Linked DNA regions of Homo sapiens: all the other regions are linked to region 1. The links come from fine-mapping of genetic effects on gene expression. A gene starts in region 1. Each other region holds a variant in brackets. All regions are shown on one strand. Distances are between the middles of the regions.

The links.
Region 2: its variant is fine-mapped to the expression of PDZD8 in esophagus mucosa (GTEx, PIP above 0.99).
Region 3: its variant is fine-mapped to the expression of PDZD8 in whole blood (INTERVAL, PIP above 0.99). The same link has a PIP of 0.9 or more in neutrophils.

The regions. Positions count from the first base shown.
Region 1 is chr10:117,369,310-117,380,273 of GRCh38, reverse strand. It overlaps PDZD8 (PDZ domain containing 8), which reads left to right and starts at 4,834. Exons shown (of 5, transcript NM_173791.5): 1 at 4,834-5,918. The coding sequence starts at 5,047. RefSeq lists an enhancer at 4,394-4,513 and silencers at 4,744-5,063, 5,164-5,343.
Region 2 is chr10:117,403,663-117,414,626 of GRCh38, reverse strand. No RefSeq gene overlaps it. Among named protein-coding and RNA genes, the nearest start is that of PDZD8, 34 kb to the right of the region's middle. RefSeq lists cis regulatory regions at 2,711-3,199, 5,322-5,680. The variant C/G (reference allele first, on the strand shown) is at 4,583.
Region 3 is chr10:117,389,125-117,400,088 of GRCh38, reverse strand. No RefSeq gene overlaps it. Among named protein-coding and RNA genes, the nearest start is that of PDZD8, 19 kb to the right of the region's middle. The variant T/C (reference allele first, on the strand shown) is at 4,623.

The sequences.
Region 1 (10,964 bases):
AACATGGGAGTGTCATGCAGGTGAGCTTGGACCAGGGAAGCAAGCAGCGGAGGAAAGCCCAGCCTAAGGGCCTCTTTTTTTCTCCCTGAAGTGGGAGGAGGGTCCTCCCCTGAGCATGATGAAAGAGCTGAGCCTGGTCAAGGTTTGATGGCATTGTTATGGGACATGGAAGAAGATGCTGGTAATGGAGAAAAAATGGATAAATGTGGTAGTGGAGAAAAATGTCTGGGTTTCCTTGAGGGCCTTAATAAGAACGAAGACCATAAATTTATAATGTAGAGGGGAGGAGGTAGATAGTTGGATTCATTTAGGGTTGAGGTTTTGCAGGTGGAGATGGAAGGAAAAGTGTTAATGCCATTCTCTAGCTTAAAGACCTTTGAAGACTTCACAAAAACTGCAAAATAGAATAAAAACTTGCCCTGACATTTAATCTCTCCATAATTTAGTTTGTGTCTACTTTATTATGCTACCTCCATCTCCCTTCTCTCCTTGATGCACCAACCTATTCGTACTACCTTCTTCCAGTCATCCTGGTCTCAATTTCCCCAAACTGGCGGGTTTCCATCTTCTGAGTTTTTGTCTCCTTCTGATTAGAATGCCCTTCTAATCATTAAATGCCAATGCAAATTCCATTTGCCCCAAAAGCCTCCCACCTTCCCCAGCAAGAATTAATCTCTTATCCCCTATTGAGCTAGTATTGCCCATCATGTCTTCTCAATCCTCTCCCAGTCCTTGAAGAAGTTGCCCCACCCACCAGCAGCCCAGAAGAGGCAAGCTCCTTGGTCATAAATTATTGGAGTAGCACAGCCAATTGGAGATTTCTCTCCCAGGATTTGAGATTGAGCTTGCAGGCTACCTTAGCCATCAGAGACATAGGACCCTCTAGATCTGGATAGAGAGCTGGTGCCTCCCAAAGTGCCTGTGTGCTGAGGGTAATGGGGAAGTAGAAACCAAGAGCCTTCTGGAGTAAAATGGCACAGACCTGCAGGGAGATGCAGAAATAAGATACTGGGTAGGGGTGGGGGCAGAGGAAATGAGAGTGAGAGACAGTTTTCTTACTCTAGGATTTCTATGAACATCTTGCAGCTGAGTTCCTGGAGATATTCCAGCATCCTTAACGTGAATCCAATTTTAGTTGTAAGTTAGCCTGAGGTAGTTGCTGTTCCTTGCAATCAATTGTCACTGCCCCTGAACCAGAAGGCTCTGCTCCCATAGTACCTTGCATGTGCCTCTATTAGAGCACTATCTCCTATCATCAGAGTTATGCAGATGTGTGTCTGCTTCCACCTGGGGCGCAGCGCCCCTGTTCATTCAGTATCCCTGGAGCCTAGTACTTGTTGGATGCTCAAAAAATAGTTGTGGAATTTGAATTCTCCCAGTTCACAAAATGGTTTGTTGATGTATCATTTGTTAGGCAAACCTTATAAACTCTATGTTTCCCACCATATTTCACTATATTTGCATTATTTTACATCTTTCAAAAAATCAAATTTGCTTTCATGCTACTCACAAACTTTGCACATTTACGTGGTTTGGCTTTCTCATTATTTTTCGCGGTCACCAGGAATGATTCATAGTCAAGCAGTGGTCCATGCATCCCTCTAGTTGGTGAGAATGTCTTATATGCAACCCATCTTCCAGTATTCAACTGACTTCGACCTTGAAATGGATATTTCCATGAAGGCTGTTGGGGCAGCTTAATTTCAATGATGTCATTTAAAACACATTAAAAAGTCAGCAGGGAGGCTAAGCACAACTGCTTCCTTTAAAAACCTATTCAGAATCATCGATCTTCAGAGCTGGGGCCAGTGGTTCTCAGGCTTTTGAGTTTCTATGAACCAGCATTAATATAAGAAAAAAAGGGAGGGGTTGCTGAATTTATCCTTTTCCAGAAAATAGCATTAAAACAAATTCGTCTCTATTAACATAGTATAATTTCATAAAATAAAGGGCATGCTAACACCAATATTATCCAGAGCATTATCTCCTAACTTATCAAACACAGTCAAGTGTGGCTTAACAACAGACATAAGTTGTGAATCTTTAGGCAGTTTCATCATTGTGCGAACATCAGAGTGTCCTTACACAAACCTAGATGGGAAACCCTACTACATACCTGGGCCATATTGTATAGCCTATTGTTCCTAGGCTACAAATCTATACAGCACGTTGCTGTACTGAATACTGTAGGCAACCATAACACAATGGTATCTGTGTATCAAAACATCTCTAAACACAGAAATGGCATAGTAAAAATACGGTACTATAATCCTATGGGGCCACCATCCTATAGGCAGTCTGTCGTTAACAAGAACATCCTTCTATGGTGCATGACTGCATATTTGACTTTACAAAAACTCATGATATTTTGATTTCTAAATAATGTTTGAAATATTTAAATATTTCTAAATAACATGCTTAACACTGTGCTTGGCACATGGTCAGTTCTCTGTATTATTATTATTAGTGTTTAATCAATGTTGGTCATGTTTCACACAAGGGAGAATACTTTTTTCTTCCCAAAAGGTTTGCTGAGCTCTTTCATGGATTTGAAGTGTGTCCCTAAGGGGTCAAGTTTTGCTGGGGAATGCAATGACTCTGACTCTGTAAAACAAACTGAGAAGATTTAAGATTCTCACAGGTATTCTGAGGAGCGCAGAAGTGAGAGGAGAAGAGAAAAGAAAGGAGTCTGCAAGATGAAGACTGAGGACTCATTCCCATGAAGACCACAAACTTTCATTGTTGAGGAGGGAGGTGGGTGAAGAATATTTTGCAACTCGGGATGGATCAATATACAGTTTGAGGGTTTTATATTTCAGGAATGTGAATAACTTCTTTCATGCCACCCTACTTCCAGCTTCTGTAACATTTATAATATGCAATGTGCATGAATGTTATGAATAGGTTTACGGTGGAAATCATAGAAGGGTCTACATTTCTCATTTGAGTTGAAACAGTGTAGATCCCAGAGAGCAGCCCAGAAGCAGAGGCCAGGAACCAAAGGGGACCAGAGAACAGAAGTTGCCAAGATCTCCGAAAAATCTCGGCCATGGTTTGAGCATGGTTCCTCAGCAGACACCTATCTTATGTCTTCATAGTAATGAAAGCCATTCTGGTTTCGTATCTGGGCATGATTCGGTAAGGCATGATAAGCCTGGTTCCGAAGTTCTGTACCTGTCCCAGCTGGGTCAGGTCTATTTTTGTGGTAGAATCACCTACAGTTAAGAGAATCCTTGGCTTGGAGGTTTTCTTCTTTTTTTTTTGAGACAGGGTCTTGCACTGTCGCCCAGGCTGGGGTGCAATGGCGTGATCTTGGCTCACTGCAACCCCCGCCTACCGGGTTCAAGTGATTCTCCTGCCTCAGCCTCCTGAGTAGCTGGGACTACAGGCGCGCACCACCACGACCGGTTAATTTTTGTATTTTTAGTATAGACGGGTTTCACCATGTTGGCCAGGCTGGTCTCGATCTCTTGACCTCGTGATCTGCCCGCCTCGGCCTCCCAAAGTGCTGGGATTACAGGCGTGAGCCACCACGCCCGGCCGGCTTGAAGGTTTTCAAGGGCTAGAGAGGAGCCCTGCCCTGGCTCCTTAGGTACAGCCAGAATCGGCCTTTAAGGTATGGGATATCTGACTCCTGCAGGACTGGAACTCCACGTGCTTGGAGGGATAAGCATTTATGATGTAACCACTAAGTAGTCAGAGGGCAGGAGGAGTAACGCTGTTGCTGGGCAACCTGGCTTAGCTTCGTGGCTTTGGTTAAGGTGCTACTCTATGCAAAATTCCTTGCCGTCTTCCCTAATCCGCCTCCCCAATTCTCCCTTCCTGAACATTAGGGAACCCACTGGCCTGCTTACAACTGAAGCAGTTTCTGTGTTAGGGCAGAGAGTAGTGATCAAGACATTAGGGTTTAGTGTTAGATAAACCAGGCTCCACTCTGCGGCCCCACGCAACCTCCCCACGCTCTCTGCACCAGTGTTGGCATCTGTCAAGTGGGTGGGGGCTAACAGTGAATAACTGCCTCATAGATGGACTACCGGCTTAACCAGAGACTGACAGCGGGTCGCATATTAATCTTCCAATCACTTGGCAAACTCGTTTCACTATGCATCTCTCCTCCTGGCTGTTCTTTCAACTTCCTCCTCCCTGAAATTTCGAAGATCCACCTCGGTGGGAAAGTCATTCCGCGTGGCGCGCCCTTTCCCTGCGTCCCTCCTTCCCAGGGCCCACCCTCCGCGGACGCAGAGCGTCTGCCGGGGGGACGGCAGGTCCGCGATGGCTGCCTCTGAGGCAGTCGGTCCCCTCTCGCCGTGGGCTTGGGAAGCGTCCGAAAGGCCCGCTCGGATCGTCTGCGGTGCTGCCCGCAGGGAAAGCGCCGCTGCCAGCCGGGCTGTCACGGGTGCGAGTGGAAGAAGCACACCGCAGGATGAGCGACGCCGCTGCAGAGGTAACCGCGGGGACTGCGGCCAGAGACGGGGGATGGGCGCAGCCGAGGATAACGGGATGGCCGGCATCCGGAACGCGTCAGGCCCGCTCCGCCGGACCGCCTTATCCTCCAGCCCGCGTCCCCAGCCGTCCTCCCAGATCCCGACCGCAGCTCCAGAAGTGACGGCCACGTGGGTGGCGGCGCGCGCCGCGGGGATTGGAATGTTGGCGTGGGGGGACGAGGTTGGAAGGGCCGCAGAGAAGTAAAGGAGGACCCGCGTCCGCGTGCCCGGGCGCCGACTGCTGGGCGACGCCGCCGGGAGCGAGCACGCCTCTGACGTCACGCGCTGCTCGTCCAATGAGTGGAGGCCTGAGGGAGGCGCCGGTCCCGGCCCCGCTGCCGCCGCCGCCACACCGGCCCTTCGGGAGCGTCTGAGGAGGCGCGGGCCGCTGCGGGCTCGGGCGCCGCAGCGCGCCGGCCCGAGCCCCTGGACGAGGCCCACGGAGCCGCTCGCCCCGACCCAGCCGCCCGATGTCCTCAAAATGGAGGCAGCGGGGGCGGCGGCGTGAAGAAAGCGGCGCTGTGGGCGCGGGAGTAGGGGCCCGGGCGGAGGCGGTGGCGGGATGGGGCTGCTGCTCATGATCCTGGCGTCGGCCGTGCTGGGTTCCTTCCTCACGCTCCTCGCCCAGTTCTTCCTGCTGTACCGCAGACAGCCCGAGCCGCCGGCGGACGAGGCCGCCCGCGCGGGCGAGGGCTTCCGCTACATCAAGCCAGTGCCGGGCCTGCTCCTAAGGGAGTACCTTTATGGCGGCGGCCGGGATGAGGAGCCCTCCGGAGCGGCCCCTGAGGGCGGCGCGACCCCCACCGCGGCCCCCGAGACCCCCGCCCCGCCGACGCGGGAGACTTGCTACTTCCTCAACGCCACCATCCTATTCCTGTTCCGGGAGTTGCGGGACACCGCGCTGACCCGCCGCTGGGTCACCAAGAAGATCAAGGTGGAGTTCGAGGAGCTGCTGCAGACCAAGACGGCCGGGCGCCTGCTGGAGGGGCTGAGCCTGCGGGACGTGTTCCTGGGCGAGACGGTGCCCTTCATCAAGACCATCCGGCTCGTGCGGCCAGTCGTGCCCTCGGCCACCGGGGAGCCCGATGGCCCTGAAGGGGAGGCGCTGCCCGCCGCCTGCCCCGAGGAGCTGGCCTTCGAGGCGGAGGTGGAGTACAACGGGGGCTTCCACCTGGCCATCGACGTGGACCTGGTCTTCGGCAAGTCCGCCTACTTGTTTGTCAAGCTGTCCCGCGTGGTGGGAAGGCTGCGCTTGGTCTTTACGCGCGTGCCCTTCACCCACTGGTTCTTCTCCTTCGTGGAAGACCCGCTGATCGACTTCGAGGTGCGCTCCCAGTTTGAAGGGCGGCCCATGCCCCAGCTCACCTCCATCATCGTCAACCAGCTCAAGAAGATCATCAAGCGCAAGCACACCCTACCGAATTACAAGATCAGGTGAGCTGGAGGTCGGGGAGGGGGCCTGGCTGCCGGGAACCCGGGCCTGGGCGGGACGCTGCGTGGATTGGGAAGGGCAAAGGCTCATTTCTGTCCTGGCGCCTGCTTCTGGGGCCTTCCCACCCTGGACAGGGCCCCAGATCAAGGCGAGTCGTGAACACTTGCTTTGCTTCCGAACGGCATTGATAGGAGCTAGAAACCTTTTCGCGTGTTCATGGGGACTCAGGGTGCTGTCAACGCGGGCAGAATCGTCTCCTTTTATAAGCAGCATATTGGAAATGGAAGGGAAGCCTACCCTAATCCCCAGGAGTCGCTTCTGGGACTGTTGAGAAACTCTCCCTCTATGTGGTTGCTGCATTGAGGGCAGCCGCGTCACTGGCTTTGCAGCATCCCCTTGGCCGCTTTGAGAAATTGTTCCTGGACACAGTACACGCGTGAAGAGTGTGCTTATAGCCCAGGTCTGTGCTAATTTGACATTGCAAGCCACTTTTGCTTTGATGGTTTGACACCTTTCAAGGCAGAGGTGGTAACTCTTGCAAAGGAATACTTTTGTGGGTTTTTTTTGTTTTTGTTTTTGAGACAGAGTCTTGCTGTGTCGCCCAGGCTGGAGTACAGTGGCGCGATCTCGGCTTACTGCAACCTCTGCCTCCCAGGTTCGAGCGATTCTCCTGCCTCAGCCTCCCAGGTAGCTGGGGTTACAGGCGTATGGCACCACGCCTTGCTGATTTTTTTTTTTTTTTTTTTTTTTTTTGTATTTTTTAGTAGAGACGGAGTTTCACCGTATTGGCCAGGCTGGTTTCGAACTCCTGACCTCAAGTAATCCGCCTGCCTCGGCCTCCCAAAGTGTTAGGATTACAGGAGTGAACCACCGCGCCCGGCCCGGGAATACTTTCCACAGCAGATGGGAAAGGAGTTGGGAGCCTGTACATAGTGTACTTTACATTTTGTATTAATGTCATTTGCCCATTTTGGGTAGATTGTAGAACACAGATCCAGACTCTGCCCATCAAGCATTTACTCTCTGTGACTGTAAGTTCTTCTCTCAAGGGACCTGAAGTCACTGTACAAATTGTATTTTAATGCTAGGTAGTGATTTTAATTTTGTTTAAGCCTTCCAGCATCTGATGGCTTAAATTTTGTGGTATACAGTTTTGAGTAGTATATAAATTTTGTTTTAATATTGTAGGAGTGGAAGGGGAAAGACTTTTTTAGGGCTAGAGGTGGAGTGGAAGGTGCTTTTTCTTTTGTAAAAAGCTGAATTTTTAACTTCTCTTTCGGTCCTCCTTTAATTTTGTATTCACTAAGACATTTGAGCCTTTAAAATTTTGCCCTTTATTATAAAATTATGTCAGTCTTGTATTTTACTTACCTAATTTTACTTGCCTTTTAGTGGAAGTTGCCTATTTCTGGATCACTAATTTTCTACCAGTGTCAATTTTCAGGAGCAAGATAATCCAGAAATATTTTGGGTTTGGAATGGATTATTGACTTCTGTATGTGGCAGATGTACCTTACCAATTATGTTTTGTTTAGGCTAACAGCGCAGAGTGACAGTTTAAAACTTGCGTGGCAGGAGAAATTTACTTTGTAATGGAAATATTTCCATAGATTTGCGGAGGGTGGTGAACTGGTTGTTCACTGTGTTCGATTTCTGGTTCTGTGAAGTAGAACATACTTTATGAAACCTACTTTTAACCTCTGGAATATCAGTGATTAAATTATAACTCGGTTCTAGTGTTTAAGCAGTGAGAGATGTTTATTTATAGCAGTGTGTTGCCAAAAAAGTCATGAGAAAAAGTTGCTAGAAATTTTGGTATTCTATCACAACTTCAATTATGATGTTTTCTGATAGCTTTCAGTTAATACAATTTGACTAGATTATTATTTTGAAATTTGTAGACTAGCCAATGACAGTGAGATTACATATCATTTTGAGATTTTTTTTTTAATGTAGACTTGGAATTTAGGTAAATCTGAAGTAAGTTATGAATAAGTTATGGAGGCATTGAGAAGTTTATTACTTTGAAAAACTATTATCTGTATCATTGAATAACAACCATTTAAAAGTATGGCAAAATTGCTTTTCACTTTGAAGGGATTTTTTTAAAAACAGCATGAATTTGGTTATGATATTTCAACTTCTAAATGTGAAGCATTAAATGATCATTTCCAGAAGTATGCACATCTGTGCTATTTATACTGGATGGCATCTCAATGCTCAGTCAGCTGCACAGAGCATATCACTCAATCTGTAAATGTTTATTGTACACCTGCTATATGCTTATCCTTGTTGTAGATGCTGGGATTTCAGTACTGAACAATACTTGAACTCAGCCCTCAGGAAGCTTAGAGTCTAGTGAGAATTGAATTAGCTATACTTAGTAATTTTTTTGTGTTTTTCGTTTGTTTGTTGAGACAGGATTTTGTTCGGTTGCCCAGAGCTGGAGTACAGTGTCAGGATCATGGCTCACGGCAGCTTCGACCTCCTGGGCTCAAGCAATCCTCCCATCTCAACCTTCCAAGTAGTTAGGACCACAGGTGTGTGCCACCACTCCTGGCTAATTAAAAAAAAATTTTTTTTGTAGAGATAGGTCTTGCTTTGTTGCCCAGGCTAGTCTGGAACTCCTGGGTTCATTCAAGTGATCCTCCCACCTCAGCCTCCCAAAGTGCTGGGATTACAGGTGTGAGCCACCTTGCCCGGCGCTTTGTAAGATTTAAACTAGAATGGGATTGATGGGGTTGAAGTAGCCAGGAAGCCGGTTTTAGCTTAGTAGAAGAAAATAGCAAGTATGACGATGAAAAGGGCTGCCTCAGCAAGTGATGACTTCTTGTCTGTGTAGCTGTTCTGTCCAGTGTTTTAAACTGGTGATGGGCCAGGTGCAGTGGTTCACGCCTGTGATCCCAGCACTTTGTAAGGCTGAGACAGGCGGATTACTTAAGGTCAGGAGTGTGAGACCAGCCTGGCCAACCTGATGAAACCCCGTCTCTAGTAAAAATGCAAAAATTAGCTGGGCGTGGTGGCGGGCGCCTGTAATCCCAGCTACTCTGGAGGCTGAGGCAGGAAAATGGCTTGTACCTGGGAGGCAGAGGTTGCAGCCAGCCGATATCGCACCACTGCACTCCAGCCTGGGCGACAGGGTGAGACTCCGTCTCCAAAATAAATAAGTAAATAAATAAATAAACAAACTGGTGATGATGTGGGACTGATTCAAGTTTCAGATAAGAATGAATTACAATACATCTAAGATATAGCATACTTCTCACAGGGAAAATTAAACTAGCTAGTGTTCATCTTTTTTTACAGATGAGGAAATGGAGCTCGGAGTAGTTAAATAACTTGCTTAAAGTCACACAGCTTTCAAGTGTTGAAACGCAGCTCTGATAAGGCCAGGCCACCTTTAAACACACACACACACACACACACACACACACACACAAACTATGTTGTTCTTAAGTGATTTATTTTTTAAAAGCATGCCATCGATATAGTAAATATGTGGGATATCTTTCCAAACTAACCTAGAACTCTTGAGAAGAGTATGACTATAAAGCTGATTTTTTTTTCTTAAATTGGTCATTTTAGAGGATCCTTTTAAAAGTAAATCATGAGGCTAAATCTTTGGGTACTGTCCCACGTGGCATTTCTTTTTTAATTGAGCAGAATTGTGTTTCCAAATAGAAGAGACAGGTTTCACCATGTTGGCCAGGCTGGTTTCGAACTCCTGACTTCAGGCAGTCTACCCACCTCGGCCTCCCAAAGTGCTGGGGTTACATGTGTGAGCCGCTGTGCCCGGCCTAGTTTATTCTTTTTTAGCTATCTAATCTTCTTAGTAGAGCTAAAGCAGTAAAGAGAATTGTATGGAGTCTTACGATCCTTTGGCATTTGTAATCATTACATAACAAATATCTTGCCAGTTAACGTTGTTATTACTTCTTTCCCCCTTCATTTATTTTGCCTTTTTCGTGTTGCTAAAGTGAATCAGCCTCTCTGGACTGCCAGTTCCTGATGTTTCACCTAGAGATGCTAAGTTGCTCAAGTGGTTGCTTTCTAAGGACCCAGCTGACTGACATTTCATTTTACCCAAGTTAACAAACTTACAATGTTTGTAAAACATTTTATTTTACAAAATGAATTATAATATGTAGACAATATGTTTACAGATTTATTCAAGTTAGGAATTTCATTCATCCACCTCAATGTTAATTGGTTTGATTTTTTAATTAAAATAGTATATTATAATAGCAATATATTTTTTTAAATGAACCTCAGAATCCATCCTCAAGGGAGAAAGATTACCACTAATGTTCTTTTACTACGTGGATAATTCATCTTAAACATGGAGTCTGAGTAATAGTGTCTGGGTGGGGAGCTCTGTTTAGGGTTTAGGAGTCAAATATTTGAGATTCTTACGGATGCTTGTGTTCCTGGAGTATTATTGTATATAGACAAGCAGATTCAGTTTGCAGGTACTTTTAATTTGGCCTGCACTGTTTAAAAAATGGAAAATTCTGTGTGTTTTGGATTTGTGGCTTCTGTTAGGAAAAATTGGAATATCTTGTAGCGCCAGTGCTGCATTTCTCAGAGCAACAACAGGATGGAGAGATGGACTGTAGTAGCAGCTTTGGGGTTGAAACTCGGTGTGTAAGCTCCTAGGTGGAGTTTATAGTCCCCCCTTATTTGCTGTGCTTAATTGATGGTACTTGCCTGGCTTGGAGTTATATGAATTTGAGACCCGTACTGGAGGAGTAAATAGGGAGCATTACTGTTGCTGATTAGTGAAAATGAGAAGACTTAATAGCTGGAGTGGAGAGGGAGAGTGATCATTTTTATCCTTCTTTTAATTACATTTTTGAAGGGACTGTCATAGAGCAATTTTATTTTTTAAAAGACATTGTTGGCCAGGTGCGGTGGCTCACTCCTGTAATCCCAGCACTTTGGGAGGGCAAGGCAGGCGGATCACTTGAGGTCAGGAGTTCGAGACCAGCCTGGTCAACATGGCGAAACCCCATCTTTACTAAAAATACAAAAATTAGCTGGGCATGGTG
Region 2 (10,964 bases), 34 kb before region 1:
CCAGCCAACATTGAAAATAAGTGTCCTTTTTGAACTCCCACTTAGGTGAATGACTTTGTGCAGGCATCTCTTAAAACAGCTGCAACCACAGCAAGGCCATGAGGAAAAGTCACAGAGGACAAAGACAGAGACATTTAAATACCATGTAAGCCAAGAGGAACCACTCTGGATCTAATTCCACTTTTGCAAGGTAAACATTTGCCTTGGCTGAGACAGGAAAGAAAAGTAAGGGCTGATGACCTTTGAGGTGAATCAAACACATCTCTTAAGAAGGTCTCAATTTTTAGGAGGAGGATGATGGCCACTTGTCCCCAAGGGCTGAACAGGGGCACTAAACCAGGAGGAAGAAGACCTGGGCTCTTTTCCCACCCACATCACTGGTGATCCACATGACATAGGGTAAGTCACCTCCTCCTCCCTAATCCTCTTTCCTCCACTGACAAATGAGGGTTTGAACCCAGAGAACCTGTAGGGACGTTCCAGCTTTGTGATTCTTTAAAACAAACATTGATTGAGAAAGATTCCAGGGCAAGGAAGGAGCAGGAACTGTGCCCCATACAGTCATCCAAGAGTCAAAGCCTGGCAAGTTTCCAGAGCCCAGACAGGAGATAAATGAGGAAAGATACATGATGTGGCCAAATCTCCAAATTTCCATGAGAAATGAAAAATCTAGATGTTTATATCCAACCTCCTGCTTTTCAAATGATACTAATTAATTCAAATTTTTTTTTGTTTGTATTTTGTTTTTGAGACGGAGTCTCACTCTGTCGCCAGGCTGGAGTGCGGTGGCACGATCTCTGCTCACTGCAACCTCCAACTCCCTGGTTCAAGCTATACTCCTGCCTCAGCCTCCCGAGTAGCTGGGACTACAGGCACACGCCATCATGCCCAGCTAATTTTTGTATTTTTAGTAGAGACGGGGTTTCATCTTGTTGGCCAGGATGGTCTCGATCTTCTGACCTCGTGATCCACCCGCCTTGGCCCTCGAAGTGCAGGGATTACAGGCGTGATCAAATTTTTAAAATAAACGTTTGTGAGCTAATAAAAATTGCCTGAACAGAATTAGATCCCCAGGCTGCCAGATTGTGTCTTTTGTGTGAGGTCACGTCATCTCCTAAATGGGGGTAAATGAGGATCTCTGATCTTTTCAACAATGATCTTTCAACTTCAAAGCTGAAGACAAATTTTAACGACAAATACCTAAACCATGTAACTCTTAGAGAAATGTTTTTCAAACTTTTTTTTTTTACCATAACTCACAGCAGAGTCCATTTTACATTGCCAGTGGTCACACACACATACACACACATGCACATACACATACAAAATCAGAAGAAAAGACTCACAAAACTTATGCTTACTACATGCAATACACTCTGATATTTTCTATTCTTTTTTACTTCATGTTAATGCAGGTAGCAACCCATTAAATTGATTTCATGGGTCATATTTGCAAAACATTACTTTAGAGTTTATATTTACTTAATTCTCATTTAATTCTCCCTCTCACCTTATGAGGTAGGAATTATTATCATCCCCATTTTACAGAACAGAAAAAAAGAATCTCAAGCTTCACACTCCAGATCTAGCTTTTTTTCTCTTCTTCTTTTAATCAAGAAAGGCATGAATGAGAGGAATTAAAAGATGTCAAAGGGCCAGGTCAGAAAGGAAGAGTCCCAGAGGCAAAGCAATCAAGGTGCGCCTTGGGGAGAATTTTAAAAATCAAACAAGGGGATTAAGGCTGTGTGCTGTGGAGCATGCAACTTACAAACTGCTCTGTCTCCCCTGTGAAATCTGCAGGAAAATTTGCATGGCTGCCCATGCTGATGGGTGAGTGGCTGCTTCAAGGAGGAGCCAGATTTATTATCCACGTGGCCCAAGCAGAGTCAGAGAGAACATGGGTTATGCCGGAGGCTGGGAGGTTGCTACTCTCTAGGTCACATTCATGAACTTGAAACCAGCTCCAGACTTGTAGGAATTGGGGACCGGTGGTTGCAGGGTGAGGAGAGAATGGATAGGCATCGAATCCAGAGCATTTGACCACCAGGGCTGGCCTGGGAAAACTTACCACTGGACTCTATTAATGAACAGACAAAAGTTCCATGTCTTCTGCACAGGCAATGATCAGAGAAGAGAAGAGGAGACAGAAGCCCAGCCCCTGATGTCAGTGAAAGACTGACATAGGGGGAGATTTGATGTGTTAAGAGTGATGAACCTTTCTCCTAATTGAACCAGTCAGCTGAATCTAATGGTACCCTTTCTAATCAATCTTGTTGCAACCATTTGTGATGGGGCAGGAGCCTAGCAACACCTAGTACCGCCTAGCACAACCCAGCACAGCCCAGCACAGCACAGCACAGCACAGCACAGCACAGCACAGCACAGCACAGCCCAGGCCAGCCCAGCACAGCCCAGCAGAGCACAGCATAAACATTGATTGCGCGAGGACTCCAGGGCAGGATCCTGTAACACATCCGGGCTGTATTCTAGAATGGTTGAGTCTATTCCCCGCTCTTAGTCTCTTTTCTGTCTTCTACCTCCAGATGCCTAAAGAGAACAAATGGAGATGGGTGTCTGTTTACAAAGCCAAGCAGCAATGATTTCAAGTATCTGCTTTGGGTAGCTTTCTGCATTCTCCAAAGTTGATCCTTCCAGTGTGGTATAAACACAGTTGTTGGGCAATGTTTAAAGTCAATGAGTCTTAGATTACCATCGCAAAAGTCAATTAACAAGGCAATTTCTTCCCTTGATTTGTATTTGTATATTATTAATGAACTACAAGACCTCCTAGTGAGGTAAATTAGCTTAGGTAACTGGGGAGCAGAGTACAAACATTTTTTTTTCTTTAATGGCCCCAAACATTTATCTCATACAGAGAAAACAATATACAAGCCCAGGGAGGGCTCCCTGTTCCTGCAGCCAAGGAAGCACACCGGAGCAGCTCTGATAAATATTGATGTCTGTTTATCAAAATGCCACAGGCCTTCCTGGCTAGCTGCCACCTCCTCCCACCTCGTGCAGTCCTAACTGGCAGGACTCATTATGTAAGGAGGAGATACAGAAACCTCAACTGCCATTGCTGAAGGACTTTTAGCCTTTGTTTCCTGAATACAAAAAATAAAAATAAAAAATTGTCCTGACCTACAACGGTTGGTGCCAACCAAAGGACCAACATCCTTTCTTTAATGAGGGGGCAGAAATATAGACTCTTATGTACAAAGAGAATGGTAATTGAAAAGATCTCTGACTCACTGAAATAATCAGCTTAGGGATGTGTGAATGCTCCCCCAAAATGCTGCCTTGTTACAAAATCAATGCCATTAAGAAATAAATTGTGCTACATGTAAGTTTCAGAGGATTAACACAGAGATATTGATAACCGCCCATTCGACATGTCATGATTGAGCTATGTGCAAGGCCATGTGAATAATACCATTAATTTAATCCCATTTACCTATTTTTAAGTAACACTGTTCAGCCCCAAAATGCCTGGGGACTGATAGCAGAGTAAAAATTAATAATTAATGTATTCCTGCCTTTAAGAAATATTGATTGAATGCTGATCATGTAGATACCAGACAGTAGGCATGGAACAGAAACTGAAAAAGATATAGTCCCTCAAGGAACCCAGCAACTATTTGGGGAGACAGACAGGTAGGTAAAGCATTATATAGCAGGCTGTGATAGAGAGGTGCACCCCAAGTCCTGCGACACACAGAAAGGAGCAGTTCATTAGAAACGGCCAAGAAGGTGTCCTGGGGAGAAGCCAGGTGCCCTCTGCTCATGTCCTCTATTTTATCCCACGTTGATTCCTGCTCCTGGGATGATAAACTTATTCCTCCAGGTGGCCTTCTCAGAAGGGCTGGCAGACCTCAGATGGGCAGATTTCAGATAAGCAGATCTTGATGGGCAACCCTCAGCTGGGCTGGCAGATGGGCAGACCTCCATGGGTAGCTTTCAGATGGGCAGACCTCACTGAGCAGCTCTCAGATGGGCAGACCTCAATGGGTAGAGCTCAGATGGGAAGATTCCAGGTGGGCGTCTCCTTATGCCCAAAGAATCCCATCTTCTCCCTTTAGAGACACGGTAAAACTAAAGACAGCTCCAAATTAATTTTCTTTCTGATAAAGTGTCCTGTTTTCTGTTTGCTGAGGCTCTTTTGAGAGCTCCTTGATACACTGTAGTTGAGGCTGACACAGGGAGAGCCCTGGGGGTACTCCACAGGACCAAGGATTTCAGGATCCTCTTAAAATGATCCAGGGAGATTCACATGGGGTCAGAGGCCTGGCAGAAAGCCTCAAGTAGCCTCTTCTACCTGCAGATGGCAAAAAAAGCAGAGCACAGCTGCCTGATGGCTCATTCCTCCATGATTCTGTGGGTCTGTGTGTGTGTGTGTGTGTGTAGATTTACATTTTATGGGTTCCTACAGGAATGGCATAATGAATATCTATACTCAAAGTTCCCTTTGTCTGGAAGATGCCCCACCTCCCAACCTCTACCTCTCCACTTCACCCACTTAAACACCTACTCACCCTTCAGATCTCAAGGAAATAGCCTTCCTCAGAGAAGCCTTCCCTGCCCC[C/G]TCAGGCTGGTTGCCCGAGTTGCTCATACTCACTCTCATCGTGCCAAAGCACTGTTCCTCCATAGCCTTTGTTAAAGCTTGCAAATATGCATTTATTTGCATCATTTTCCTTTATCTCTGCCTGCCTCTCCCTCGGCTATAAGCTCCATGTGGGAAATAGAAGTCCAGCTTTTTCACCTCTGTAATCCTATCTTTAGCTAAATGCCCAGAACTTAGTTATGCACTCAACAAACTCTCACTGATTTTTGAATGAACATCAAGGAAAGGGACTCTCCCCAGAACCTGTTTCTCCTGTTGTCCCCACACCCCTGCCTGGTTTGGCTTTGGGTTTTGTTTCAGGCTTTGCTCTGTTGATCAAAAGCATTATAGTCAAATATAAAGTCTTTCAACTTCCAAACGTGTCATGTGCCACTGAGTCTAAAGGAGCCATGCAAAGGCAATATGAAAAAATAATGAACCGTAATTTTTATTAAGGTCTACATCCAAAACAAGCCAAATATTATACCAATAGTAGTACACATTTGTTGTTTCAGGGAGAAGACTATAACAGATAAAAATCAATAATGTTTTTGTTCCAGTGGATTAACTTCATGCTTAGAACAGAAAGAAAATCTAAATGGATGGCTTTTCTGCTTTTTCCTTCTCAGTAATATGATGCGGTTATATCAAAGGGAAGAGTTGGCAGAGACAGAAAGTTAGAAGGCTAAGGACATTTTCTAAAGCAGGAAGGAAGATTTGAAAAGAAGGTTAGATTCTCCCTGACCTGTCAAGTTGGTGGCTGAATGGAACTTAGCTGGCTGGTTTTCTGCCCTTCAAAATTATCTTTGGCCCTCAAGTAGGAACTTCCAAGGGTATCTGACAGCAACAGATACCCTTGGACAAAGGCCTCCAGACACAAGAGCTCATCCCTTAGCAAGAGTTGATTGGACCAAGGTTGAGTGAGTTTCTCTCCCTGGAATTTGGAATCAGGCCACAGAGCCATATGCCTTTCTCTTAGGCACTTGAAATGGGATGTGAAGACAGGTCAGGTTCAAGGTGCCTGGACTGGCCCCATGAGTGAGGAACCAAAGAGAGCCAGCCTGCAGGCATAGAGAGAGAGAAATGACAAACGAGGAATGATCAGGTGTCATGACAGCCACCCCATTCCCAACTGTCTAGGTTCTGAGCCTTGTCCATTATGAGGCCAGCCTGAACTTCCTGTGCTTGGAATTCATAATATTCCCTCGAGTCCTCCTAGAAAGTGCCCTTCCTCCACCTTTTTGGTTCTCAAAGTTAGTTTAAGTGTGTTTCTGTTCCTTGTAAATTAGCTAACCACGGCTGTTGTAACAAACTGCCACAAACTGGGTGGCTTAGAACAACAGAAACTTATTATCTCACAGTTCTGGAGGCCGGAAGCCTGAAATCAAGGCATCAGAAGGCCATGCTCCCTCCTAAGCCTCTGTGGGAAGATTATTCTTTGCTTCCTCCAGCTTCTGGTGGCTCCAGATATTCCTTGGCTAGTGGCTGCACAACTCCAGTCCTGCCTCCATCTTCACATGACCGTCTCCTCTTGTCCCTGTGTCTTCTCCTCTCCTCTCTCATCACTTGTCATCTATTTAATCCAGGATGATCTAGATCCTTAACTATATCTGCAAAGACCCTTTTTCCAAATAATGTCACATTTATAGGGACCAGAAGTTAGGAGTTGGACATATCTTTCTGGAGGCCACCATTTAACTCACTATACCTTACAGCCCACTGGGCCCTAAGATGAGTTTACCGAATATTCCTGAGCAGCCTTGCAAAGTGTGAGTGATCAGCTGATGCACAGCCCACAATACGAACTGTTTATAGATTCTGAAGGATGATATGTGAATAAGGCAATTGGAGTTTTTTTTAATGGGAAAAGTGTTTTGTGGCATTTTGTTTTTGAATATTCTGGGATAGAGTGAAGCCTTGGTCTATCACATCTGAAGTCACACCTTCTCCAGTCTCTTTTGGATTGATGAGAATAATTATAATGTAATGGCCACTGTGATGTACTGCTAGGTGCCAGCTGCTGCACTTGGCTTTTTTTTGTTTGTTTGTTTTGAGTCAGAGTCTTGCTCTGTTGCCCAGGCTGCAGTGCAGTGGCAGGATCTCAGCTCACTGCAACTTCTGCCTCCAGGATTCAAGAGATTCTCCTGCCTCAGTCCCCTAAGTAGCTGGGACTACACGCATGCACCACCATGCTCAGCTAATTTTTGTATTTTTAGTGGAGATGTGGTGTCACCATGTTGGCCAGGCTGGTCTCGAACTCCTGACCTCAGGTGATCTGCCCACCTTGGCCTCCCAAAGTGCCGGGATTACAGATGTGAGCCACCACGCCCGGCCTGTACTAAGCTCTTTATATGGCATGTCACTTCGAATCTTTACCATGATCTTTTGATGGTGGGATTATTATCCCCAGGAGTCACACCCAAGTAGGTCAGTGCTTTAAGCCACCAGGATGGCCTTTTTCAAGATCTGGCATTTTGCGGGCTATGGATATTAAAAGAAGATCTAGTGCGGGCAGCACCGGCCAAGTGCCAGTCAATACATTTGGTGCACTATGTTTGTTATCTCACGTGATCTTTACAGCTCCTCCTTGAGGGAGACAGTGCAGAAATTAGAGGAAGGCCGATCCCACTAACCAAGGCTTCTCATGGATATAACCTGCTGAAGTCAGTGAGACAAAGTCTCAGATATTCCAGCTCCTGCAGGCCCAGGGGGATCAGCCCCTACAGATCTACTCCCAATAACTTAAAGAAACATGACACATGTGGACAACAGAATGGCAATTGGAAACTTAAGTTGACAAAGCACCCCTTGAATTGGAATGCTCTTCTTACTTGAGAAGCTGCCCATCTCACCTCCCAAGCTGTGAGTCTGGAAGGGAAGTGAAGTAAAGCAGCCCCCTAGAGAGAAAGCTTAAAGCTTCCCTAGGCAAGTTTTTCACCTTAGTAATTTTCCACCCCAACCCCAGAGAGGATTTCCTTTCAAAAGCCTCACACTGTACTCATAATTTCCCTCTTCCTACTAATTGCCAATAGTACTGCTTCCCCTCCTCCTCTCTCCCTAAGAGTTGAGGACACGGAGTTCAGATCAAAATTACAACCTTCCTTCCCCCTCCATTCCTCCTCATGTAGCTCCATCCACACAGTCATCCAAGTCAGCCACCTGGACGTCTTCCTCAGCTCCCCTCCGCCCTCTGCCCCAGAGCCATCGGGCATCAAGTCCTGCCTACCTATCCGCCTCTCAGTGACTTCCCCTCTCCCTAGCCCTCATTGCCCTGGATTAGGTTCCCAGCATCTCTCTCCTGGACTTGGTCAGGTCTCCCTGCCTCCATCATTCTTTGTTTTCGTTTGTTTTTGTTTGTTTGTTTGTTTTGTTTTGTTTTGTTTTGTTTGAGACGGAGTCTTACTCTGTCGCCCAGGCTGGAGTGCAGTGGCACAATCTCGACTCACTGCAAGCTCTGCCTCCCAGGTTCACGCTATTCTCCTTCCTCAGCCTCCCCAGTAGCTGGGACTACAGGCGCCCGCCACCACGCCCAGCTAATTTTTTGTATTTTTAGTAGAGATGGGGTTTCGCCATGTTAGCCAGGATGGTCTGGATCTCCTGACCTCGTGATCTGTCCGCCTCGGCCTCCCAAAGTGCTGGGATTACAGGCGTGAGACACCGCGTCTGGCCTGTTTTCATTTTTTTTTTTTTTTTTTTTTTTTTGAGATGGAGTCTCACTCTGTTGCCCAGGCTGGAGTGCAGTGGCACAATCTCGGCTAGCTGCAACCTCTGCCTCCTGGGTTCAACCATTTCTCATGCCTTGGCCACCTGAGTGGCTGGGATTACAAGTGCACACCACCACGCCTGGCTAATTTTTGTATTTTTAGTAGAGACAAGGTTTCACCATGTTGGCCAGGCTGATCTTGAACTCCTGGTCTCAAGTGATCCACCTGCCTCAACCTTCCAAAGTGCTGGGATTACAGGTGTAAGCCACCAAACCCAGCCCTCCATCAGTTCTTAATTTGATCTTGTTGTTTCTTTGCTTTTGTTTGCATCATTTTCTTTTACCTCCACACGGGGTCAGAGACCTGGCAGGAAGCCTCACGCAGCTTCTTTTACCGGCAAATGGCAAAAATCTCCATTCTGGCATTGCATAAGCCTCCAGCAGTGGTTTTCAAAATGTGTCCAGAGGAACCCCAGCTTCATGGTCCCTGTTGGAATTTTTTTTTTTTTTTTTTTTTTTTTTTTGGTGGAGTCTCACTCTGTTGCACAGGCTGGAGTGCAGTGGCATGATCTTGGCTCAACTGCAACCTCCACCTCCTGGGTTCAGGCGATTCTCTTGCCTCAGCCTCTGGAGTAGCTGGGATTACAGGCATACACCACCACACCGAGCTAATTTTTGTAGTTTTAATAGAGATGGGGCTTCACCCTGTTGGCCAGACTGGCCTTCATCTCCCAACCTCAAGTGACCCACATGCCTCGGCCTCTCAAAGTGCTGGAATTACAGGCGTGAACCACCATGCCCAGTCCCTGTTGGAATTTTGATTCCAGAAAAGAAATTCTGCCTGAGTTTTGAACAAATTGAGGACAAAGTATTTAGACAAATGGAAATAAAAATATCATCTTTATTACTGAAAAAGCTATATTAGAGGATGTGGCTTAGCTTTGGCCAAATAGCATGGTGACAATTCCCTGAATTAAACCACAGATGCCCTACACAGCACAAACATTCCTCCTTCTTGGAAGTGACTGCTTTGAGAGGCGGGTTCCCAGGTGTGGATAGAGAAATACGAATTAACATGCACACCCAGGGTTTAGACTTTTGTAAAAGTTGTCAGGCAGCATTTCTCAAAGCTTGCACCTTGGAACACTAACCTTAAGAAGAGCTGATCTGGGAAGAAAATGCTACATGGCCAAATGCCTTTAGAGAAAACCATACAACATGTTCTCCCTCGAGAATCACAATGCACATAAGGAAATTAGTCTCCCTGGTCTGCAATGATGAAATCAGACTGACCTTGCTTATTGAACGTTGACCCTTGTTTCCCAACATTATCTGACTAAAAGTACTTTGGGCCGGGCACGGTGGCTCACGCCTGTAATCCCAGCACTTTGGGAGTTTGAAGCGGGCGGATCACCTGAGGTTGGGAGTTCACAACAAGCCTGACCAACATGGAGAAACCCCGTCTGTACTAAAAATATAAAATTAGCCAGGCATGGTGTTGCATGCCTATAATCCCAGCTACTCAGGAGGCTGAGGCAGGAGAATCACTTGAACTCGGGAGGCAGAGGTTGCAGTGAGCTGAGATTGCACCATTGCACTCCAGCCTGGGCAACAAGAGCAAAACTCCATCTAAAAAAAAAAAAAGTACTTTGGTGAGTCTTTTTATGTTTCTATGGGAAATAAATGACATCAGAGTAAGGCTGCTGGCCTCTCTCTGTCCCCAGGGCAAGAGAAAGAAGAATGACTTACATGATTGTGGAATGGAGTAGGGGGCTCAGGCCCTTCCTCCCCATCTCTTCAATGAGGGTTTTCCTAAGCAGGTCTTTGGTTTTCACTTTTTGCTGTTTCTCACAGGCTGTAGCTCTAAATTCTCTTCTGAAATTTTTCTGTTTTGACCCCGCATCGATTTTGACAGCAGAATGAGCAGTTAGGGATGCTTTTTTTTTTTTGAGATGGAGTCTCGCTCTGTCACCCAGGCTGGAGTGCAGTGGCGCGATCTTGGCTCACTGCAAGCTCCACCTCCCGGGTTCACACCATTCTCCTGTCTCAGCCTTCCGAGTAGCTGGAACTACAGGCGCCAGCCACCATGCCCGGCTAACTTTTTTTGTAGTTTTAGTAGAGATGGGGTTTCGCCATGTTAGCCAGGATGGTCTGGATCTCCTGACCTCATGATCCACCCGCTTCAGCCTCCCAAAGTGCTGGGATTACAGGCATGAGCCACCATGCCCAGCCCAGTTAGGGATGCTTTAATACAAAAAGTTTATGACTAAAGTAGGACTGGGTGTGGTGACTCATGCCTGTAATCCCAGCACTTTGGGAGGCTGAGGCAGGCAGATCACCTGAGGTCAGGAGCTCGAGGCCAGCCTGGGCAACATGGTGAAACCCTGCCTCTACTAAAAATACAAAAATTAGCCAGGCATGGTGGCAGGTGCCTGTAATCCCAGCTACTCAGGAGGCTGAGGCAGGGGAATCACTTGAACCTGGAAGGCAGAGGTTGCAGAGAGTAGAGATGGTGCCACTTCACTCCAGCCTGAGCAACAGAGAAAGACTCTGTCTCAAAAAAAAAAAAAAAAAAAAAAAGTTTATATCTAAAGTAGAGGGGAAGAGAATTCTTGATTTCACAAACGAAATGCTTTGCATATGACCTCTGGACTCTGAAAC
Region 3 (10,964 bases), 20 kb before region 1:
CTGGTCTCTAACTCCTGAGCTCAGGCAATCTGCCCACCTTGGCCTCCCAAAGTGCTAGGATTACAGGTGTGAGCCACCATGTCCAGCCCTAAAATCTCATTAATCATAAAGATACTGAAAAATCATAGAGATACTGTCAATATTTTTGTAACACTTCAACATGTTTTCCCATCTTATGACTCAAGGCCCTGAAGGCACTTTTTTTTTTAAACATACAGTAACCTTGCAAAGATCATTGGTCTTCAAAAGATGAAGTAAGTCAACATTTTGCAATTAGAGGGAAGAGGTAGTCCATGGTTCAGTGGTCAGGTTTTTACCCAACAGGAAAGGTAGGCCTGCAAATGTTGCTTTACACTTTGTAACTGAAAATTTAACACACGCTTATTAAATGTTTACATGGTGCTAAAAAGACTTATTTGTCTTTTGGGGGAAACTGAAGGGTGCACAGAAGAAAGATGGTCAGCTAGGGGTCCCACGGAATTTTTCTTTGCTAATGTTGACTATCTGATTCCTTTGGATGTATGGTGGAAGAGAGCAAAGGGCTGGTATGCCATGGTGGTTACACAGTCACAATCTGGACGTGGCTGGCTTGGAATACTGCCCCTGCCACTTAGCAGCTGTATGACCGTGTGCAAGCCAGTTAGCCTCTCTGTGCCTCCATTTCCTTCTCTATAAAATGAGAATTCTACACTTCCTTCAGTTTTTATCGGAGGGCTTAGGCTGTTGTATTGTGCTCATAAATGGTACCTTTATGTGTAGACATTTTATGAGCAGTATATCTTGATGATTTCTTTCATGACTTAGAAAAACAAAAGTGTTGGCATTTTCTGAAGATCAGGATCTTATCCTTTTCTATTAGTTGTTTCATTCTGATATGTTTATTATTAAGTTATTTGTCAAAGTACTCTCCTGAAACTCTGCTATTAGGTAATTAAGAATTAAGACACTTAGGCCAGGCATGGTGGCTCACACCTGTAATCCCAGCACTTTGGGAGGCCAAGGCGGGCAGATCACCTGAAATTGGGAGTTCGAGACCAGCCTGGCTAACATCGAGAAACCCCATCTCTACTAAAAATACTAAATCAGCTGGGCATGGTGCCGTGCGCCTGTAATCCCAGCTACATGGGAGGCTGAGGCAGGAGAATTGCTTGAACCCGGGAAGCAGAGATTGCGGTGAGCCGAGATCACGCCATTGCATTCCAGCCTAGGCAACAAGAGCAAAACTCCATCTCAAAAAAAAAAAAGAATTAAGACACTTGATTGCTATGTATTTTCTTAACCAATGTGACTCTACTTTTCCTTAGCAAAAGTGTACAGAGTGCAGGCTCAGAATGAGATGCCCAGCTGCTGAACCTCATTCTTCTGATGTGTGGCGGGCAGAAAGGGCCAATGTAGGCAAGAAGTCTCTCAGTTCAAAACCACCTTCTAAGGCCCCCTTCATCCCAGGGCTTCTTTGGGGACTACGCAGAAGTGCTTATTTGCAATGCAAATACCCCAGATGACCTATCAATCAGTCAATTATCCAGGGTATTCCTTTCCATATTGCCCTCAGACCTGGGAAAGAGAAGGGTGACCCCATAATATCACACACACACTGATATGGTTTGGCTCTGTGTCCCCACCCAAATCGCAGGCCAAATTGTAATCCCCACATGTTGGAGGAGGGGTCTGGTGGGAGGTGATTGGATCATGGGGGCAGACTTCCCCCTTGCTGTTCTCATGATAGTATATGAGTTCTCATGAGATCTTGTTGCTTTAAAAGTGTGTAGCGCTTCCCCTTTATTCTTTCTGTCTCCTGCTAGGCCATGGTAACACATGCTTGTTTCCGCTTCACCTTCCGCTATGATGGTAAGTTCCTGAGGCCTTCCAGCCATGCTTCCTGTACAGCCTGCAGAACTGTGAGTCAATTAGACCTCTTGGTAGTTCCTTATAGAAGCATGAGAACAGACTAATACACACACATACACACTTCTTAAAGAACATGTGTGTTCCTTTGTCACATGGGACCTGGTGCTCAGCACTGGCATATCACTACCCCTAATCCTAAACATCTGCTCCTGGCACCAACGCTGCTCAAGCCCTAGGGAACACTTTTCCATATTTCTTACCTTTTATCCTCAAAACAAAGGCTACCTGTCCTGAAGGTCATAAAGGTTTTTGGGTTGCTGCTGCCAACATCAGAGATGGACACAGCTTCAGAGGGCAGAGAGCATTTTAGTGGTAGGGACCATTAGGAAGAGAAAAAGCAAATTAATTAACTTGTCAATTTCTTCCTCCCAGAGAGCATGAATAAAACAGATTTTTGTTTCGCATAGTATCATTCCCTGTCATGCTGAGCTTTTCTTTTCATTTTATTTCTTTCATTTGTGGTTCCTAAACTCTTCATGAATTACACGAATCACATAATAAAATGTCACCATGTGGTTAGGCTGTAGTAGAACCATCACGTATCAACTATCCATAACCCAATGTCATGATTGACATCTTGAAGATATGATTTGTAATTTTAGGCATGAAATAAGTGCATGTAGTACTGATTATTTGTATTGGCAACTAAGTTAAAACGGTGAATGCTAGAATACTGAATAGTTTATTTTTGTAAAAGTATTTATTATGATTTAACTCCACTGTTAAAATTTTAAACAAAAAATGTAACTTTACTGAAATAATTTCATCTATAATTTTTACACTCATTAATTTATAATTTCTACTTTGCCTTTTTTTTTTTTTTTTTTTTTTTTGAGACGGAGTCTCGCTCTGTTGCTCAGGCTGAAGTGCAATCTCACGATCTCGGCTCACTGCAACTTCCGCCTCCTGGGTTCAAGAGATTCTCCTGCCTCAGCTTCCCAATTAGCTGGGATTACAGGCACCTGCCACCATGCCTGGCTAATTTTTGTATTTTTAGTAGAGCCAGGGTTTCACCATGCTGGCCAGGCTGGTTTTGGACTCTTGACATCAGGTGAACCATCGCCCGCCTCAGCCTCCCAAAGTGCTGGGATTACAGGCATGAGCCACCTCGCCTAACCCTTTTTTTTTTTTTGGAAATGGAGTCTCACTCTGTAGCCAGGCTGGAATGCAGTGGCACGATCTTGGCTCACTGCAACCTCCGCCTCCTGGGTTCAAGTGATTCTCCTGCCTCAGGCTCCTGAGTAGCTGCAACTACAGGCACACGCCACCACGCCCAGCTAATTTTTGTATTTTTAGTAGTGGCAGGGTTTCGCCATGTTGGCCAGAATGGTCTCAATCTCTTGAGATTCGCCCACCTCAGCCTCCCAAAGTGCTAGGATTACAGGCATGAGCCACCATGCCCGACCCTCTACTTTGCCTTTTAATGTAAATATTTTTCATGCTTTAAAAATTTTTTTCAAAAATATTCAACTTTAACTATTACATTTACTTTCATTTTACATTTTTGATGGAAATATATTAAAATTTGATACTTTTTGAATATAATTTTATGTTTTAATCTTTTGGATCATATCAATGGAATGTAAATTATTTGCATACTTTAATTGCAATTAGATAATTAGTTTTTTTCTTGCTGTGAAAGAAAAAAAATTTATGAAATATGTAATGACTCATGATATATGTCTTTATTTTATCACTCATTCAAATATTTCTGGGCCATCAATAGCACGTACACAGTAATACCTGAATTCAGTTATTCTTGATATTTTGTAGACTTTCAGTCAGATAAAAACTATAGTTTTCCAACTTAAAAAGAAAATTTCCATTATGAAGTCGTATTTGTCAATGTAGGGGGAGAAAAAATGTATTTTGCAGCTTGATTTATAATTTTCTATTTTGTTATTATTATTTTTTTTAATTTTTTTTTTTAGAGACAGAGTCTCACTGTTACCCAGGCTGCAGTGCAGTGGTGTGCAATCATAGCAGCCTCAAACTTCTGGGCCCAAGCAATCCTCCTACTTCAGTGTCCCAAGTAACTAAAACTACAGGCATGAGCCAACAGGCCCAGCTAATTTTTGTTGTTGTTGTTGTTGTTTTAATAGAGATAGGGTTCCTATGTTGCCAAGGCTGGCCTCAAGCTCCTTAGCTCAAGCAATCCTCCTGCCTCAGTCTCCCAAATAGCTGGGACTACAACGCATGCCACTTAGTTATAATTTTAAATATTTAGACCATTTGTACTCTAGCCCTGGCCCCACATATGTTGAAGATGAGCCTGACTGCTATAATCAGATGATCAGATAGAGTTTTTTAAAAATTTAACTAATAATAGCTAACTTATTGACACTAAATATGTGCCAGGCCCTGTGTTAAGTACTTTCTACATATTATGCCATTAAATCCTCCCAATAACCCTATGTCATTATTCCCACTTTATTTATTTATTTATTTTTAGCTTTTATTTTAGGTTCTGGGGTATATGTGCAGGTTTGTTATACAGGTAAATTGCATGTCACAGGGGTTTGGTGTACAGATTATTTCATCACCCAGGTAGCATATTGCCCAGGGAATAAGCATAGGTAGTTTTTTTATCCTCACCTTGCTCCCACCCTCCACCCTCAAGTAGGCTGTGTTGTCTATTGTTACCTTCATTGTGTCCATGTGTACTCAATCTTTATCTCCCACTTGTGATAGTTTATCTCCCACATGTGAGTACA[T/C]ATGGTATTTGGTTTTCTGTTCCTGCACTAATTCGCATAGGATAATGACCTCCAGCTCCATGATCTTAATCTATTTTATGACTATGTAGTATTCCATGGCATATATGTACCACATTTTCTTTATCCAGTCTACTACCATTGATGGGCATTTAGGTTGATTCCATGTCTTTGCCATTGTGAATAGTGTTGTGATGAACATACATATGCCTGTGCCTTTGTGGTAGAACAATTTCTATCCCTTTGGGTACACACCCAATAATGGGATTGCTGAGTTGAATGGTAGTTCTAAGTTCTTTGAGAAATCGCCAAACTGCTTTCCACAATGGCTGAACTAATTTTCATTCCCATCAGCAGTGTATAAACGTTTCCTTTTCTCTACAACCTCACCAGCATCTGTTATTTTTTTGACTTTTTAGTAATTGCCATTCTGACGGGTATGAGATGGTATCTCACTGTGGTTTTGATTTGCATTTCTCTAATGATTGGTGATGTTGAGCATTTTTAATATGCTTATTGGTTACATGTATCTCTTCTTTGGAGAAGTGTCAGTTCATATCCTTTGCCCATTTTTTAATGGTATCCCCACTTTATGGAGAGGAACCAGAAACCTGGAGAGTTTCCATGACTGGCTCGTGGTCACACAACCCCTAAGTCCTGGAGCTGGGATTTGATCCCAGGAGGCCTGAGTAACTTTGGGAAAAGGCACTTTGAGAGAGGTGACCTTGATGGGCATCCCTGTGGGGAACTTGGACACATGATCGCAACTGGGAGGGTCCAGGTGCTGGGAGGAAGAGTGGCAAGGAGAAGGCCTCCTGATTCCAGTCTGACTAGAGATCTGATGTCACCCAAGCACCAAAAGCTACCAAGTGTCTGAATGGGTAGGGAGAAGTGCCAGTTTTTACCAATTCTTCATGTTCTTCTGATTTCAGCAATGGATGAGTAAGAAAAATATTCCATTTACTTTTATTACTTTGAATTCTCATTCTCAGTCATTGAACAGGTAAATTCAAAGGGCTGATTCCTTCTTTCCTTCTTTATCCCTCCCTCCATCTTTCTTTCTCCTTCTTTCTCTCCCTGTTTTCTTTTCTCCCTCTCTTTCTTTCTTCAATCACATATATATTGAGCTCCTATTATGTACTAAGCACTCTGCTAGGTAATAAAAAAAAGACAGTGCCTCATCATTATGGGGTTCCCTACGTAGTAGGAAGACAGAGGGCAAACCAACATGAAAATCCTAAAAATTACAACCATGGTGAATGCCATACAGGAGAGATGGAGAATGCTAGGAAGGTGTGTATGTGCTAGGGGAATCTGGCCCAGTCTCAGAGTGTCAGGGAAGACTTCCCTGGAAACCTGTCATTGGATCCAGGTGGTAAGTAAGGTTAACCATACACAGATTTGGGAGAATAGCCAAGCTGAGAAAATAGCTTGGATAGAGGCCCCATGAGGAGAGGGAGCCTATGGGTGGGAATACGAAGATTCTGAGAGAAGGCCAGTGAGGCTGGATGTGTGTTTGGATGAAAGGTTCCGACCATTCCTGACCAGGGGTCAACAAATTATGGCCCATGGGCTGAATTCAGCTACAATGATAGAGCTGAGTAGTTGCAACAGAGACATTATGACCCACAAAGGTGGGAAGAAATTCAGAATGCTGTCTAGAAAATGTATTGTCTGCCTTTTATAGAAAAAGTTTGCAGCCAGGGGCAGTGTTTCACACCTGCAATCCTAGCACTTTGCGAGGCCAAGGTGGGAAGATCATTTGAGCTCAGGAGTTTGAGACCAGCCTGGGCAATATAGAGAGACTTCATCTCTCCTGAAAAATTAAAAATAAAAAAAAATTAACTGGGCTTGTTGGCATGAGCCTGTAGTCCCAGCTACTCAGGAGGCTGAGATGGGAGGATGACTTGAGCCTGGGAGGTCGAGGCTGCAGCGAGCTGTGATCACGCCACTGCACTCCAAACCTGAGCAACAGAATGAGATCCTGTCTCAAAAAAAATTTAAAAAGAAGATAAAAGAAAAAAAAAAGTAGATTTTTTTTTTTTAATAAAAAGTTTTCAGACCTCTGAACCAGATGGTGGAGGTCAGACCTTGCAGGCCCATTGATGATTGTGATCTTTGTCTTAACAGCTACGGGAAACCATCAGAGTGTTTTAAGACTGAAGGAGACAGGGAATAACAGGATCAGATTTCATTAGGCACATTCAGGAGTTGAATATATACTTACATTGTAAGGATATCCCAGGCCAGGCCAGTCCTTCCAAAGATCCCTATAAGGGAATTGTGGCATTAATCTCCTCATAAATGGGTTCTAAGTCTTTCTTGCCTGTGGCAAGTGGTCACAGTCAGTTTCTTCCTACCTAAGCCCCTATTTTGGTCAAAATCAATTGGGAGCAAATAACAGAAGCACAATATAAACCAGCTATACAGCAGGAAGAAAATGTGTTGGTTCACATAGCTGGGAAGGGCAGTAGGTGACTCAGAGAAGCCAAAAAAGAGCAACAGAAAAAAGAGTCCATAGCCCTTGGCTCAGGAACTCACCGCATAGAGAACCATCTCTCCATTTGCCTCTCATCTTTGCTTAATCCTGCTTGGCTTCCTGCACAAACAGACATGCTCCACTGAGTGACCTCAGGTTCATGTTCTCCCAGTTTAGGCACCCCAGCAGAAAGAGAGTGTCTCTTTCCCTAAGCCTGTACATTCATCTTGGGGTTAGATTGTGAGTGGCCCTGCTCAGTCACATGCCCACCTTCTCTAGAACAATCATTGTTGTCAGAGGGATCAGGTGCTATAAATTGGCCAGACCTGGGACATGTGCCTATCCTTAAGGCCAAGGGGTGGGCCTGGAATTGAGAACTTCAGAACAGCCTAGAAGGGAAGAGGGGAGTTTTCAAAAGAAAGGAATGTTGGCCCAGCGCGGTGGCTCACACCTGTAATCCCAGCACGTTGGGAGGCCGAGCCGGGCAGATCACTTGAGGTCAGGAGTTTGAGACCAGTCTGGCCAACAAGGTGAAACCCCATCTCTACCAAAAATTGCAAAACTTGGTGGCGGCCGCCTGTAGTCCCGGTTACTCGGGAGACTGAAGCAAGAGAATCGCTTGAACCCAGGAGGTGGAGGCTGCAGTGGGCCAAGATCGTGCCACTGCACTCCAGCCTGGGTGACAGAGTGAGACTCTATCTCAAAAAAGAAAGGAAGGAAGGGAAGGGAAGGGGAAAAGAAAAGAGAAGAGAAGAAAAAAGAAAAGAAAAGCAAAGTTAGGCAGACAAAAGAATCTAAGCAACCCATGCCTGTGGTATCTGCCAGGCTGGTATGCACAAGCTTTACAGGAGAAGCCAGTTCCGCTGTCCTGGCAACAGCTGACCAGACCAGAGATCAGTCTCGGGAAGAGCTTACAACACACATGTGCCAGACACGAGGGTGGCTGATCAGCTCTGAGGTGACTCCACACAAAGGTCCAGCGGGGGGCCCTCCTCTGAGTGGCAGCAAGTTAACCAATCAAACCTTCTCACTTGCAAATATAAATGATAAGTCAGCAAAAGTGGAGCTTGATGTTGGCAGCAATACTCAGAATCTCATCCAGGTTTCTATGTAGCTCACTCTCCATCCTGTTCCTGTATAAACAGGAACCCACCCAGTAAACCTCCTTGGCTGAAGGAAAGCCAGGACTGTCTTTTCCTCCTAAAGAATTTGCCTGTATTGATCAGTACAATCTGATGCCCTGGGAATTTCTTCCCCTGCCATTTACAGGGAAAATGTTTCCATGCTGAATTTCATACAGCAGGAAATGAGCTACTCTTATGGCAAGGAATGATATGATTACAACAGGGATTTCCTCATTGGGAGGGAATTCAAGCACTTCAGTAGGTGGCTGGGGAGATTTAACCACAGACTTTTTGGGGAGGAGGCTGAAGTGAAAGCTAAGTACAATAAACATGGTAACCCACTGTGGCAGGGCTGGAGTCCTGGGTTCAAGTCCCTGCTGGGGGACCCTGGGCAAGTCACCTCTCCTCTGTCCTCTGGAAGTGAAGTTTTAAAATCATTCATCCATTCTACAAAGATGTGTGGCAAGGGGCGGTGTGGTGCAGAGTGAATGCAGCAGAAAGCCGGAGACACAACTGCAGACAGAGGTAACGGGGACCCAGACATTTGGAGCCTTGGACTTCCCTATGAAGACTTTGGTTTTTACATCGCATGAGATGGGGAAGTGTGTTAGTTTCTTGCAGTTGCTATAACAAATGACCACAAACTTAGTGGCTTAAAACAAACAAGTTTATTATCTTATAATTCTGGAGGTCTAAAGTCAGACCTCTAGCAGGTCTGACTGGACTGAAATCAAGATGTTGGCAGAGCTGCCTCACTTTCTGGAAGTTCTAGGGGATAATCCATTTTCTTGCCTTTCTAGCCCTTAGAGCTGTCTGCATTCCTTACTCTTAGTTCCCTTCCATCTTCAAAGCCAGCAGTGGCAGTTTGAATCGTTCTCCCATTGCATCAGTCTGACTTTCTCTTTTGTCTCTCTCTTCCACTTTTAAGGACCTTTGTGATTACATTGGGTCCAGTTGGATAATTCAGAATAATCTCTTTATCTGAAGATCAGGTGATTAGCAACCTTAATTCCTCCCACAACAGTAACGCCCCTTTGCCACGTAACGTAATATATCCACAGGTTTTGGGGATTAGGATGTGGACAACTTTGGGGGCCATTATTCTGGGCCCCCCCACAAGAAACCACTGGTACGTTTCAAACAGTTGAGTGGCATGATCCGACTTGTGGTTTACCATGGTCACTGTGGTGTCTGTGTTGAAACAGACATTAGGGTAGCAAAGGCCAGAGAGACCTTTAAGTAGAGAGGCCAACTAAGAGACCACTCCAATAATCAGGCCAAATATGGTGCTTGAACCATGATAGTGAATGCGGTGAGAAGTGGTGAAACTCTGAATATATTTTGAGGGTAAAACCAATAGGATGTGTTGCAAGTGTGAATGCAGATAAGAGAGAAAGGAGTCAAGGATAGCACAAGGCTTTTGGCCTGAGCAACTGGAATGACAGAGGTACCATTGATAAATATGGCGGGAAATGCCCAAGGAACTCTCATGGGATGGATATTCGCTCAGTCTTACACACAGTAAGTCATCTCACACCAAGGTGGAGATGGCTGGTAGGCTGTTGGATATATGGGTTTCCTAGAGGAGCTCAGAGTGAGTAAATGCATTTGGAAGCATACACATATGAATAGCATTTAAAGGTAGGAGGCTGGATGAGATCACCTAAGGACTGAATGAAAGTAGAGATGAGGTGAATATGCTCTTGGGCCCCAAAAGTTACACTGATCTCCACACAGTAGATTTAGATCCACTGGCAGTCTCAAGGACTTGCCATCTCCAAGCATGTTGCTGCTGCAGCAATGTTATTCTCTTCCAGAGTTACTTACCTTCCCTGGCTTTGCCAGAGGAGCAGAGCCAGCAGTGATCCCTCCTCTCCCAGCATGATAGGACGTTCTGGTGTCAGTGTTGGCTCCCCTCTACAAAGCCTCTTCCTTCAAACAAGTGGTCTTAGGGCTTCAGGAGAAGGTGGCTCTTTCTCACCAAAGTGGAGAGTAGGTCATGTAAATTCATTCACTTAATAAATACCAGTTGAGTACTTACTATGGGCGAGGCCCTGTGCTGAGTGCTGGGAAACTGTGGTTTACAAGACACACATTGTACAAGTGATGATAGTAAAGTGTGGTGAATACTGTGTCAGGAGTGTATTTGGCTGCTAGTAACAGAGACCTGTAATAGTAGTTTGACAGCTTAAGGGGAATTTTTTTATGTAAAAAAAAAGTTCCAAGGTGGGTATTGCAAAGTTGAGTTCAGCTTCAGTGTCATCAGTGTTCTGAGCTTATTCTGTCTTTCTGCTCAACCATCTTCAGTGTGTGGCATCTATCCTCAAGGTTACCACATGATTATAAAGTGGCCACTGAAGTTCCAGCCATCACATCTGAATTCCAGGCCAGGGGAGGGAGAGGGAAGTACAAAAGAGATATGGAGATAATAAATCAAAATCCTTTGTTGAGCTCCCACCCAAAAATTTTGCTTATATCTCATTGGCCACTCTTATCTGCAAGGCTGGTTGGGAAATGTCATTTTTAAAATCTGAACAATTTGCTGTTCCCAAATTCTTCTTTGAAATGAGTGAATGGATATGGACGAAGCAAGTAGCAGTCTCTGCCATAAGCACCAGGATGAGGGAACATATATTGGATGTTATATGAGGATATAGCAAGGGATAAGCCTTGGTTAGGGCCAGGGGAGTCTCCTAAAGAGGAAGATTTCAGTCTACACTTTAAGGGTAGGGTTACCTGCAA